3 separate regions of the Homo sapiens genome follow, and all the other regions are linked to region 3. The links come from fine-mapping of genetic effects on gene expression. A gene starts in region 3. Each other region holds a variant in brackets. All regions are shown on one strand. Distances are between the middles of the regions.

Region 1 (4,232 bases), 260 kb after region 3:
GCCCTGGCCTGGTCCCCGATCCCAGCCTGTCCCATCTCGTGATGAGAATCTCATTCTTCCCAGTCCCAGCTTCATCCATCTCTCCTTTTCAAGCTTTCCAGAATAGCCCTTCCATCCCTTTCTCTTCCCCATTCCTAGACAATATTTTCTATGTGATGGAGTACCGAGAACTATTCCTGGCACTTTTTCGAAAGTTTGATGAGAGATGCCAGCCCCGCTCTTTCCTTCGTGACCTGGTGGAGACCACCCACCTCTTCCTCAAAATGTTGGAGCGATTCTGTCGGAGCCGTGGGAACCTGGTGGTGCAGGTACTGGGCAGCCCCACAATGTAGAAAGAGCTGTAAGGGAGAGTCAAGGAAGGGGGGCTCTTTCTTCTCACAGTTTGTACAGCTTAAGTTCATCTGTTAAACGTGCTCTGAACTACGACAGCAAGAGGTTTGTGGGTGTTGGCCAGTGTGAGTCTACTACAGTTTCCTTCTCCCATTAGAATAATCTCTGATCTGCCATAAATATTTTAGTTCAGTCAGGAAACATTTATTGAACACCTACCACATGCCAAGTACAAAAACCCTGGGGATTCATAATTTTAGAGTCTAATAATTATGCTATAGCATTTTCTGGTTATACCTTGAAAGCATTGTGGTGAGGTGGAAAGAGCCTTAAATTGCGGCCAGGCATGGTGGCGCACACCTGTAATCCCCGCGCTTGAGGAGGCCAAGGTGGGCAGATTACTTGAGGTCAGGGGTTCAAGACCAGCCTGGCCAACATGGTGAAACCCCGTCTCTACTAAAAATACAAAAATTAGCCAGGCGTGTTGATGCACACCTGTAATCCCAGCTACTCAGAAGGCTGAGACAGAATCGCTTGAATCCAGGAGGTGGAGATTGCAGTGAGCCAAGATCATGTCACTGCACTCCAGACTGGGTGACACAGTGAGACTCTGTCTCAACAGCAACACAAAGAGAGCCTTAAATTGAACTTTAGAAAGTCTGGAATCTAGTCCTGTATTGGTTATTATTGGAATAAGCTCAAGCTGGTCGTGTCGGTCTCCAGATCCATAAAGTTGGGATTGTGACAGTTGTCCATGAACCCAAAGTGGAATCAGTGAAAAGCCTAGGACAGGCTGGGCACAGTGGCTCATGCCTGTAATCCCAGCACTTTGGGAGGCCACAGTGGGTGGATCATTTGAGGCCAGGAGTTTGAGACCAGCCTGGGCAACATGACAAAACTCCTTCTCTACTAAAAATACAAAAATTAGCTGGGTGTGATGGCACGCACCTGTAGTCCCAGCTATTTGGGAAGCTGAGGCACGAGAATTGCTTGAACCCATGAGGCAGAGGTTGCAGTAGGCCAAGATCATGCCACTGCACTCCAGTCTGGGCCACAGAGCAAGACTCTGTCTCAACAAAAAACAAAAACAATTCACCAGCATGGTGGCACATACCTGTAGTCCCAGCTGCTCAGGAGGCTGAAGCACGAGGATCACTGGAACTTAGGAGTTTGAGGATGCAGTGAGCTGTGATTGAGACATTGCACTCCAGTCTGGGTGAGACCAAGACCCTATCTCTGAAAAATAAAATTATTGGTTCACATTAAAATAAAAAAAACCCTGGGACAAAATGCAAACTCCAAGGAATTTGTATCCTGGAAACACAGAGACTTTGCTTTGTATAAACAGATTTTGGGCCAGGCGCGGTGGCTCATGCCTGTAATCCCAGCACTTTGGGAGGCTGAGGCGGGCAGATCACTTGAGGTCAGGAGTTCACGACCAGCCTGGCCAACATGGTGAAACCCTGTCTCTACTAAAAATACAAAAATTAGCCAGGCATGGTCATGCGCACCTGTAATCCCAGCTTCTTGGGAGGCTGAAGTGGGAGAATCACTTGAACCCGGGAGGCGGAGGTTGCAGTGAGCCAAGATCATGCCATTGCACTCCAGCCTGGGCAACAGAGCAAGACTCCGTCTCAAAAAACAAACAAACAAACAAAAATTAGCCTGGCGTGGTGGCACACACCTGTAATCCCAGGTACTTGGGAGGCTGAGGCAGGAGAATCGCTTGAACCCAGGTGGCAGAGGTTGCAGTGAGCCGAGATCACGCCATTGCACTCCAGCCTGGGCAACAAGAGTGAAATTCTGTCTTAAAAAAAAAAAAAAAAAAGATTTTGTACCAGAACCTTCCTATAACTCTAGTTGCTACAGCTTAAAATTCTGTCATAACTGGACTTGAAAGATGCAGTAGTACCAACGAGACTTTGCTAAAGGGTATTTTTGCACTCAGAGCTCTGTGGTATTATCTGTAATACTAGGTACTATCATTTATTGAGCATTTACTGTGTGTCAGACACTGTGCTGACGTTTTCATGTAATCCTCACAGTAGCGCATGTGCCCAAAGTGGTTAAGCAACTTGTCCAAAGTCTTGTTAGT[A/T]ATACTAATTCAATACTCAAATCCAGATCTGCTGGACTCCATGCTCCTAAGTTTTGGTGTGTTTGATTGTAAGTTCTTTAATGGAGCATGACCTTCAGGGGCCTCTCAGTTCATCCTGTTTGACTTTTCAGTACCCACACCAAAGACTGGTTCACAGCCCTGACTTGGGAGAAGCAGGATTTGGGTATTGACTCACTCTCCTGCTTTTCTTTTTTTTAATTATTTATTTATTTATTTATTTTTTTAAGCAGGGTCTCGCTCTGTTACCTAAGCTGGAGTGCAGTGGCTGAATCTCAGCTCACTGCAACCTCTCCTTCCCGTGCCCAAGCGATTCTTCTGCCTCGGCCTCCCAAGTAGCTGGGACTACAGGTACACACCACCATGCCTGGCTAATTTTTGTATTTTTTGTAGACACAGGGTCTCGCTGTGTTGCCCAGGCTGGTCTTGAACTCCTGACCTCAAGCGATCCACCTGCCTAGGCTTCCCAAAGTGTTGGGACTACAGGTGTGAGCCACTGCGCCTGGCTGTCCTACTTTTCAGGAGAAAAAATTAGAGGCTTTATTTACATAGTGCTTTGCATTTTATGAAGCTTTTCCATGTGTCTTATTTGATCCTCATAGCATCTGCTTATTCTGTAGACCTCTTGAGATAGCACTGCTTTTGGCAAACCTCTGAACTCAGGAAATGGGTCAGGAGTTTTGCCATGACATCTTATGCTCACTCACATTATAGCTTTTATCCACACTCTAGTGTAATTACCTTTCTACTTCCTGTCTCCACCACTAGAGTAAAAGCTCCTCAAAGGGAAGGAAATATGCTGTTCACTATTGCTTTCTATTACCGATGGATAGCAGATAATGGGCACTCTGTGAATGTCCAGTTAATTAGTTTTGTAATAGAAAAGACACTGATGGGGAAAGCCCTCTTTAGCTCTCTTGACATCCTAATACAATTCTTTCCCCACAGAACAAACAAAAGAAGAGAAGGAAGAAGAAGAAGAAGGTCCTAGACCAGGCCATTGTTTCTGGTAATGTCCCATCTAGCCCAGAAGAAGTGGAGGCTGTGTGGCCAGCCCTGGCTGAGCAGCTACAGTGCTGTGCCCAGGTAGGTGGTTACAGAAACCCTGTCTTTTTTGAGAATAGTGCTCAGGGTATACAATCTGGGTTTTCCACTCCCTCCGCTCCCATAGCTTTATCCATCTCTAGAATTCTGAGCTCAGCATGGACTCCGTGGTTCCCTTTGATGCGGCCTCAGAGGTGCCAGTGGAGGAGCAGCGGGCAGAAGCTATGGTACGGATCCAAGACTGTCTCCTGGCTGGCCAGGCCCCACAGGCCCTGACTCTCCTGAGGTCTGCTCGGTAAGAACCCTGCCTGCTCATCCTCTTGGGCTTTGGGGGAAGGAGGAGGCCATCACTGCGGTACAGTGTTCTCAGTCTTCAAAAGAGAGTTGTCTCATCAAGGCTCTGGGACTGTATACCAACTGACTCCTGGGGCGTTTTGATTGGTTTGTTGGGTTTTTTTGTTTCTGAAAAACATTAAAAAAGCATAGTTAATTGAGAAAAAAATAAAGAAAGCAAATCCTCACTTGACATCATCAATAAGTCCTTGGTAATTGCAGCTTTGAGTAAAATGACCTACGGCATGTTTCTTATAACGTTAAGAGAAAAAAAACTGGTTTTGTTATACATTGTTTCACTTAAAGTGGCAGTATCCAAGAACCTATTGAAGACATTAAGGGCGGACTTAACTTTAATTCTAGTAGCCAAAGATATGCATCATTAACATTTTGATGAGTAACCATCCAGAGG
Region 2 (4,232 bases), 67 kb before region 3:
ATGCTAGGATTACAGACATGAGCCACCATGCCCAGCTCATTCATTACACTTTTTTATTTGTGTCTATTGCCCCTAGTATGATATAGCTTTCTCAGAAGCAGAAATAATGTCATTAATTATTTTCCCCACAGTTCATCTCAGTGCCCAACACATATGTTCATTAACTATTTGTGGAATAAATGAATGAATTCATGAATGACTGAATCAACCATACCTTTACAGAATAGATCATCCTTTCAGATGCTAAAAACACCCAGAATAACAATAGGACTTAAACTAGACAGGCAATCAATGAGGCAAGTGTCGAAGTCTGCAAACAACATGGGGCAAGAAACTTGAGGCTGATAGATATACCACAAAAAAAGACTAAAAACGATGGTAGAGCCAGGTAGCATAAGGACTGAAGGAAAAAAGGGGTTTGCACCTATGTGTATGAAATCACAAAGGGAAACAAACTGAATGGTGATACTGCCTCCCAGTGGCATTTGAGATAAAGGCCTCTATGCCAGAGCACTTTTTTTTTTTTTTTTTTTTTTTTTGAAATGGAGTCTCACTCTGTCGCCAGTCTGCAGTACAGTGGCGCCATCTCAGCTCACTGCAACCTCCGACTCCCTGGTTCAAGCGATTCTCCTGCCTCAGCCTCCCGAGTAGCTGGGACTACAGGCACATGCCACCACGCCCGGCTAGTAATTTTTTTGTATTTTTAGTAGAGATGGGGTTTCACTATGCTGGCCAGGCTTGTTTCAAACTCCTGACCTCATTATCTGCCTGTCTCGGCCTCCCAAAGTGCTGGGATTACAGGCATGAGCCACCTGGCCTGGCCCGTTCCTCTGAATATACTTAATATACCCGAGGTGGGCTGATTGCTTGAGCCCAGAAGTTCGAGACCAGCCTGGACAACACGGTGAGATCCCATCTCTACAAAAAATAAAAATAACAATAAATTTAAAATTTAACCCTTTTCCCATTTGCCCCAAGAATACTTGCTGGCAGCACTTGTAGCTGCAGCATTTATCCAGAGATAACTTTGCCGTGAAATATCTTGCTTTTATTATTTTCATATTGCTCTAGTATTACTGACTTTGGAAACAAAAGACATCATTCTATTAACAGCATTCTGTTTTCAGTAGTGGTACTTCCACTTACAAAATACAGTAATTCTGATCATTAAAACTGTCAAATCCTAGAAAATGCTGAATTCCTATGTATGATGTTAACATCATTCTTTGATTAATCCACAATTCTAATTATTCCAATGACTTTAATGTTAGTTCTGTTTAGAAATAACTCCAAGAGGCCAGGCGCAGTGGCTCCCACCTGTAATCCCAGCACTTTGGGAGGATGAGGTGGGTGGGTCGCCTCAGGTCAGGAGTTCAAGACCAGACTGGCCAACATGGTGAAACCCCATCTCTACTAAAAATACACAAATTAGCCGGGCATGTGGGCAGGCACCTGTAATCCCAGCTACTCAGGAGGCTGAGGCAGGAGAATGGCTCGAGCCTGGGAGGCAGAGGGTGCAGTGAGCCGAGATTGCACCACTGCATTCCAGCCTGGGCGACTGAGCGGGACTCTACCTCAAAAGAAAGAAAGAGAGAGAAAGAGAGAGAGAGAGAGAGAAAGAAAAAGAAAGAGAAAGAAAGA[AAGAG/G]AGAGAGAGAGAGAAAGAACTCCAAGAACAGTTTTTATATTTTATTTTCACATTGGAAATCAGTCAGATTTGTTTCAGCCTCAAAGAGCATGCTTATGTAAAATTAAATGACTGCTGGCAGCGAGCTGCACTTTTTCCTTCCAAACAGGAAAAGCGTTAAAAAAAAAAAAAAAAAAAAAAAGAGGCTAGGCGTGGTGGCTCACGCCTGTAATCCCAGCACTTTGGGAGGCTGAGGCGGGTGGATCACAAGGTCAGGAGATCGAGACCATCCTGGCTAACATGGTGAAACCCCATCTCTACTAAAAAAATACAAAAAAAATTAGCCGGGCGTGGTGGCGGACACCTGTAGTCCCAGCCACTCAGGAGACTGAGGCAGGAGAATAGCGTGAACCCAGGAGACGGAGCTTGCAGTAAGCCAAGATCGCGTCACTGCACTCCAGCCTGGGCGACTGAAAAAGACTCCGTCTCAAAAAAAAGAAAAGAAAAGAAAAAGAAAATAGGGATGATGTTGGCAACTACCGCATAGAGTTCTCATGAGGGATAAATTCATAAAATGGTACCTGACATCATGGCAAAAGCTATATACAGGAATACCTCATTTTATTGTGCTTCACTTTATTATGCTCCAAAGATATTGCATTTTTTACACATTGAAGCTTTGTGGCAACCCTACATACAGTGAGTCTATTAGTGCAATTTTTCCAACAGCATGTGTTTGCTTCATGTCTCTATGTCACATTTTGGTAATCCTTGCAATATTTCAAACTTTTTCATTATTATTGTATCTGTTACGGTGATCCGTGATCAGTGATCTTTGAGGTACTATTGTAATTGTTTGGGGGTGCAACGAACTGTGCCTATATAAGAAGACAAACTTAATCAATAAATGTTGTGTGTGTTCTGACTGTTCTGCCAATATGCTGTTCTCCTCTCTCTCTCCCTCTCCTCAGGCCTCCCTATTCCCTAAGACACAACAATATTGAAACTAAGCCAATTAACAACCCTACAATGACCTCTAAGTATTCAAGTGACAAAAAGAGCCCCACATCTCTCACTTTAAATCAAAACGTAGAAATGATTAAGCTTAGTGAGAAAGGAATGTTGAAAGCTGAGACAGACCAAAACCTAGGCCCCTTGCACCAAGCAATTAGCCAAGTTGTAAATACGAAGGAAAAGTTCTGTTTTTTTGAGACAGGTCTCAGTCTGTTGCCCAGGTTGGAGTGCAGTGCCCTAATCTTGGCTCACTGCACCCTCCGCCTCCTGGGCTCAGGTGATCCTCCCACCCCAGCCTCCCAAGTAGCTGGCACCACAGGCCTGCGCCACCACACCTGGCTAATTTTTGTAGTTTTTGTAGAGATGAGGTCTCGCTATGTTGCCCAGGCTGGTCTCAAACTCCTGGACTCAGGCAATCCTCCCACCTTGGCCTCCCAAAGTGCTGGCATTACAGGCGTGAGCCACTGCACTCGGCCTTAAATTTGAGACAGAGTGTTACTCTGTCACCCAGGCTGGAGTGTAATGGCACGATACTGGCTCACTGCAACCTCTGCCTGTCTGACTCAAGTGATCCTCCCACCTCAGCCTCCTGAGCAGCTGAGGCCACAGATGCATGCCACCACACCCTGTTAATTTTTCTGGGCTTTTTTGTTTGTTTGGTTTGGTTTGGTAGAGACAGGGTTTTGCCATGTTGCCCAAACTGGTCTTGAACTCCCTGACTCAAGCGATCTGCCCACCTTGGCCTCCCAAAGAGCTGGGATTACAGGTGTAAGCTATCAGGCCTGGCCTGGAAAAGTTCCTTCCCGGAAAAGTTCCTGAAGAAAATTACAAGTGCTACTTCAGGGAACACACAAATGATAGGAAGGTGAAACAGCCTTATTGCTGATATGGAGAAACTTTTAGTGTGCTGAATAGAAGATCAAACCAGCCATAACTTCCCTTAAGCCAAAGCCTCACCCATAGCAAGGTTACTCTCTTTAATTATATGAAAGCTGAGACAGGTGAGAAAGCTGCAGAAGTTTGAAGCCAGCAGAAGTTGGTTCATGAGGTTTAAGGAGAGAAGCCATCTCCATAAGATAAAAGTGCTAGACAAGGCTAGAGGTAGTGGCTCACACAAGTAATCCCAGCACTTTAGGAGGCCAAAGCAGGTGGATCACTTGAGGCCAGGAGTTTGAGACCAGCCTGGCCAACATAGTGAAACCCTGTCTCTACTAAAAATACAAAAGTTAGCTGGGTGTGGCAGTGCACACCTGTAATCCTAGCTATTTGGGAGGCTGAGGCATGAGAATTGCTTGAGCCTGGGTGACCAAGGTTGCAGTGAGCCATGATTGTGCCACTGCATTCCAACCTGGGCGACACAGCGAGACTCTGTCTCAAAAAAATAAGTAAAATAAAATAAAACTATGTTTTTCATGTGACATGTTATTCATGTGACTGCCCACTCTAGCCCACAATTGCCATAAGGTATCATTACACAGTAAGAGTGATTGGCAGATCTCCACATCAATAGCAGATGGGTTCCCTTCATACTTGTAAAGCTCTCCATGATTCTGCAAGCTTCCTATAATTCATATTTTCTTATACCTGGGTGTTC
Region 3 (4,232 bases):
GGCATGCGCCACCACGCCCGGCTAATTTTGTGTTTTTTAGTAGAGATGGGGTTTCTCCATGTTGGTCAGGCTGGTCTCGAACTCCCAACCTCAGGTGATTCGCCCGCCTCGGCCTCCCAAAATGCTGGGATTACAGGCGTGAGCCACCGCGCCCGGCCTCCAGGAGACATTTTTACCATTTTGCACCCTTTCCCTTTGACTTCCTAATACAAAATTAACAACTTCTAAGTTGTTATCTTATTAGAAAGCCCCCTTATAAAATAGGATTGTTCTCACCTTCAATTAACAATTTTTTTAATTGCTCAAATCAGTCTATAAAGTTCTCTTTTGCAATTTGTGACTCTGGACATATATTTAAATTCAGTCGTTACAGGAGGATCAATTGGACCCAGAAGTCAAGACTGCAGTGACCTGTGATACCACTACTGCACTCCAGCCTGAGTTAAAGTGAGACCCTGTCTCAAAAACATAAAAAAAAAAAAAAATTTAGCCTGACATTCAGTGCCACCATTATTTGGTTGTGACCTATTTTTTCTTTTCTTTTTTTTTTTTTTTTTTTTTTTTTTACACAGAGTCTCACTGTCACCAAGCTGGAGTACAGTGGTACAATCTAGACTCGCTGCAACCTGCGTCTTCCGGGTTCAAGAGATTCTCCCACCTAAGACTCCTGAGTACCTGGGATTATAGGCACACCACGCCCAGCTAATTTTTGTATTTTTAGTAGAGATGGGGTTTTGCCATGTTGGCCAGTCTGGTCTTGAACTCCTGACCTCGTGATCCGCCCGCCTCGGCCTCCCAAAGTATTGGGATTACAGGCGTCAGCTACTGCTCCTGGCCAAATATTTTGTATTTTTAGTAGGGACGGGGGTTTCACCATGTTAGCCAAGCTGGTCTTGAACTCCTGATCTCCAGTAATCCACTGGCCTCGGCCTCCCAAAGTGTTGGGATTACAGGCGTGAACCAGTGCGCCAAGTTAACTTCCTTTTTTTTTTTTTTTTTTTTTTGAGACCCAGACTCACTCTGTCGCCCAGGCTGAAGTGCAGTGGCGCGATCTCGGCTCACTGCAACCTCCGCCTCCCGGGTTCAAGCGATTCTCCTGTCTCGCTCTCCCGAGTAGCTGGGACTAGAGGCGTGTGCCACCACACCCGGCTGATTTTTTTTTATTTTTAGTAGAGACGGGGTTTCACCATGTTAGCCAGGATGGGCTCAATCTCCTGACCTCGTGATCTGCCCGCCTCTGCCTCCCGAAGTGCTGGGATTACAGGCGTGAGCCACCGCGCCCGGCCCCTTCCCTTTTTTTTTTTTTTTTTGACACAGGGTCTCACTCTGTCGCCCAAGTTGGAGTGCTCACTGCAACCTCCGCCTCCCGGGTTCGGGGTTCGAGCTATCCTCCCGCCTCATACTAGCTAGTATTTGGCATTACAGGCAAGTGCCACCACGCCCTGCTAATTAGTATTTTTAGTAGAGATGGGGTTTCACCATGTTGGGTGGGCTGGTCCTGAACTCCTGACCTCAGGTGATCCGCCCACCGAACTTCCCAAAGTACTGGGATTATAGGCGTGAGCCACGGGCGCCCCGCCCAATTTCCCTTTTTAATGGCATTTGAGCTAGGGTCCAGGTTTCGTAGCTCCCACTACCTGTCCTGCACAACACAGACACTAAATACCTTAGTGCTTATTATGAAGCCCCGTTCTTCAGAAAGGTTTTATAGCACTTTCGTTAAACCTCCTTCCTGTTCAAAATGCAGCGCACTAGAGTATTTTTCCCCAATCCACCGTTAAGCGGCTTCTTCTTAAGCAGGACTGTTTTGGGTCTCTTGGTTGCTACCCCTACTACACCCTACTAATATGTTGCACAAAGCGACGGGGAACCCCTTCTCCCCCAAACGATGTGCGTGGAAACACACAATGTCCTACTCTCTCCATTCCCAGAAACCTAGACTCTCCCCTCAAATACCTTTCCTGGCTCATCTACAGCACTAAGGTCTCAAGGTAGGGGCAAAAGCCCGCCCCAATTGGCAAATGCTCCTCCTCCGCCAAGAACCTCGAATTTCCGCTGTCCCTGGACAGAGCCTCCAACCTTCAGAAAAATGGCGAGGTGGACCCAGGCCCTTGATTCTGAAGTGAGCCCTTTTCCACAGCACAGGCTTTTTACAGGTTTTTGTGGTGGAATGATGACTCAGTGAGCTGATTTACTCCCTCAAGAGTAACCAACGCGCCATTTCAGTTCTCCAGGATCCCGACTCCGTGTCCCTCCGCCTCAGCCTTGCCTCCCACTGTCAACGCAACCGTTTCTCAGAGAAATCGCCGAAGGCGCATGGCAGGGCAGTTGGGCCACTAACGGTTTTCTAACGCGAGAAGACAGAGCGGGAGGAGAGGCGGGAACGCGTAGGGACTAGCAGGGGGCGGAGTGGGGGTGGGGTGGCGGACGAAGGGCGGGGCCGGCGCCAGGAAGGATCGCGAAGGAGCTGGGAGGCCCCGCCCTTTCCGTAGATATCTCTAGAAAGCCGCGCCGGAGCCCAAAAACAAGGACTGCGCACGCGCGGCGGCAAGGCCCGGGCATTTTGCTGCGTCACCAGCCGCCGCCCGGCCTCACCACCCCTCGTTTGCACGCACGCACGTTCATTCTCCGTCCTCGCGCCCCTTTTCCTACACTTTCCTCTTCTCCCCGACCGGAGGAGCCGCTCTTTCCGCGCGGTGCATTCTGGGGCCCGAGGTCGAGCCCGCCGCTGCCGCCGTCGCCTGAGGGAAGCGAGAAGAGGCCGCGACCGGAGAGAAAAAGCGGAGTCGCCACCGGAGAGAAGTCGACTCCCTAGCAGCAGCCGCCGCCAGAGAGGCCCGCCCACCAGTTCGCCCGTCCCCCTGCCCCGTTCACAATGTGAGTGCGACACCCCGCCGAGGGAAGGTCGCCGAGTGAGGCCGAGGCCGCGTTGGGGGCTCCCTGGAAGCGGCCCCCTAGCCTTTCTCGCATCGGTGGTGGCAGTCGTTCCTGCCTGGGGGCGGGAGGTCCAGGATCCTTGTTCCGGTTACCGTTGGCGGGTGGAGGACATTTTTCCTCCAGATGTCTGCTTCCCCCACCCCTGAACCGTTCCTTGGCTTCCCCATGCCGGAAATCCTACTTTTACCCCTTTGGCTGTCTGGGTTACTCGCCTCTTTCGGTAACTTCACCCTAGGCCTTAAGCTCCCGGTAGCTGCTCGCCATGCGGCGCCCTGAAGCGTGAACCTTCGTGGGTCGCCTCTCGGCTGCTTGGGCGCTCCGGTTCTGTTGCTTTGTGGTCCCGGGGCCAGGCCCTGAGTCGAGTGCACCTGTGGTGGGTGCCGCCAGGTGCCTGGCGGAGCTCCTGGGAGAGCCCCACGCGGACCTCGCCGTGAGCTGCAGGTACTGCTAGGCAACTAGAAGGAAGCCATGCCCACGCCGCAACATACTTCCCTCTCCAGTGTCTGGGTTTCTTGAGTGTGGGTACTTCCAGTCCGCCTCCTAACTCCAGTCTCTTGAAAACACGGGAGGTTGCCAAAACTCAGCCGCTTCCCTGGCAGCGAGGAGGAGTTACCATTGAGCAGGTAGTTCCGCACGTGTCGACTTTGGAAAGATACGGACATTTTCTGTGTTTCATGTTCTACTTGAGGTGAGGTTTCACTATCTTGTTACAGTGTAGGATGAAATAGGTATGTAGTAGGCATTTAATTAACCTACAGTCGTCCCAAAGATCTTAAATTTGTGTGGAGGTGAATACAGATTCTATGGCAGTCTTCATTTTACGATGATAAAGGAAAGCCTTGGCGATTTTAACCGGTAAGAATTCTTGGCACTGCCGCGTACAGTGGGAACTGCCGGTTTTACAGGGTTTTTTTTTTTTTTTTTTTTTTTTTGACGGGAGGTTATTTTTCAAGGTACTAACTACGTCCTAAAAGGTATGGAGAACAATTAAGGTGGAACCTTTTTTTTCTTTTGTTTTAGACTCCATTCAGAAGAGAGAAGAGGGGAGTGACTTTATGTCTTTGGAAAAGTAATAAGGATTTGCTTGATTCAAGTCATGATACTGAGGCTGAGTATATTGGCTAGAAATCTAAAGGGATGCGTGAGGCTGAAGCGAGTTTATCACTGGGAACAAGCTTCTAGAGCACAGCATGTTAGAATTTTTGAAGGAGCCCCCTCCCCGAAAGTGATACGTAATCGGGGTTTTAAAAAATTTGAATTAGGCTGGGCGCGGTGGCTCACAACTGTGATCCCAG

Direction of the effects. Positions count from the first base shown, and alleles are read on the strand shown. Sizes are in standard deviations (SD) of each study's normalised expression. Not every link is listed here.
With allele AAGAG in place of G in region 2, the expression in monocytes of the gene that starts at base 2,591 in region 3 is higher (large effect, 1.0 SD a copy in Quach 2016).

What was found. PIP is the estimated chance that this variant, and not a neighbour inherited with it, causes the effect. A credible set is the group of variants that fine-mapping cannot tell apart.
Region 1: its variant is the best candidate, but not a certain one, in a credible set for the expression of PTGES3 in whole blood (INTERVAL, PIP 0.82).
Region 2: its variant is the best candidate, but not a certain one, in a credible set for the expression of PTGES3 in monocytes (Quach 2016, PIP 0.69).

What each region holds. Positions count from the first base shown.
Region 1 is chr12:56,424,312-56,428,543 of GRCh38, reverse strand. It overlaps TIMELESS (timeless circadian regulator), which reads left to right. Exons shown (of 29, transcript NM_003920.5): 13 at 139-308; 14 at 3,392-3,529; 15 at 3,631-3,782. Among named protein-coding and RNA genes, the nearest start is that of TIMELESS, 23 kb to the left of the region's middle. RefSeq lists an enhancer at 3,959-4,232. The variant A/T (reference allele first, on the strand shown) is at 2,426.
Region 2 is chr12:56,753,927-56,758,158 of GRCh38, reverse strand. No RefSeq gene overlaps it. Among named protein-coding and RNA genes, the nearest start is that of PRIM1, 3.7 kb to the right of the region's middle. The variant AAGAG/G (reference allele first, on the strand shown) is at 1,642.
Region 3 is chr12:56,686,643-56,690,874 of GRCh38, reverse strand. It overlaps PTGES3 (prostaglandin E synthase 3), which reads left to right and starts at 2,591. Exons shown (of 8, transcript NM_006601.7): 1 at 2,591-2,877. The coding sequence starts at 2,876. RefSeq lists enhancers at 603-1,128, 1,655-1,704, 2,181-2,706, 3,205-3,324, 3,435-3,484 and a silencer at 2,355-2,544.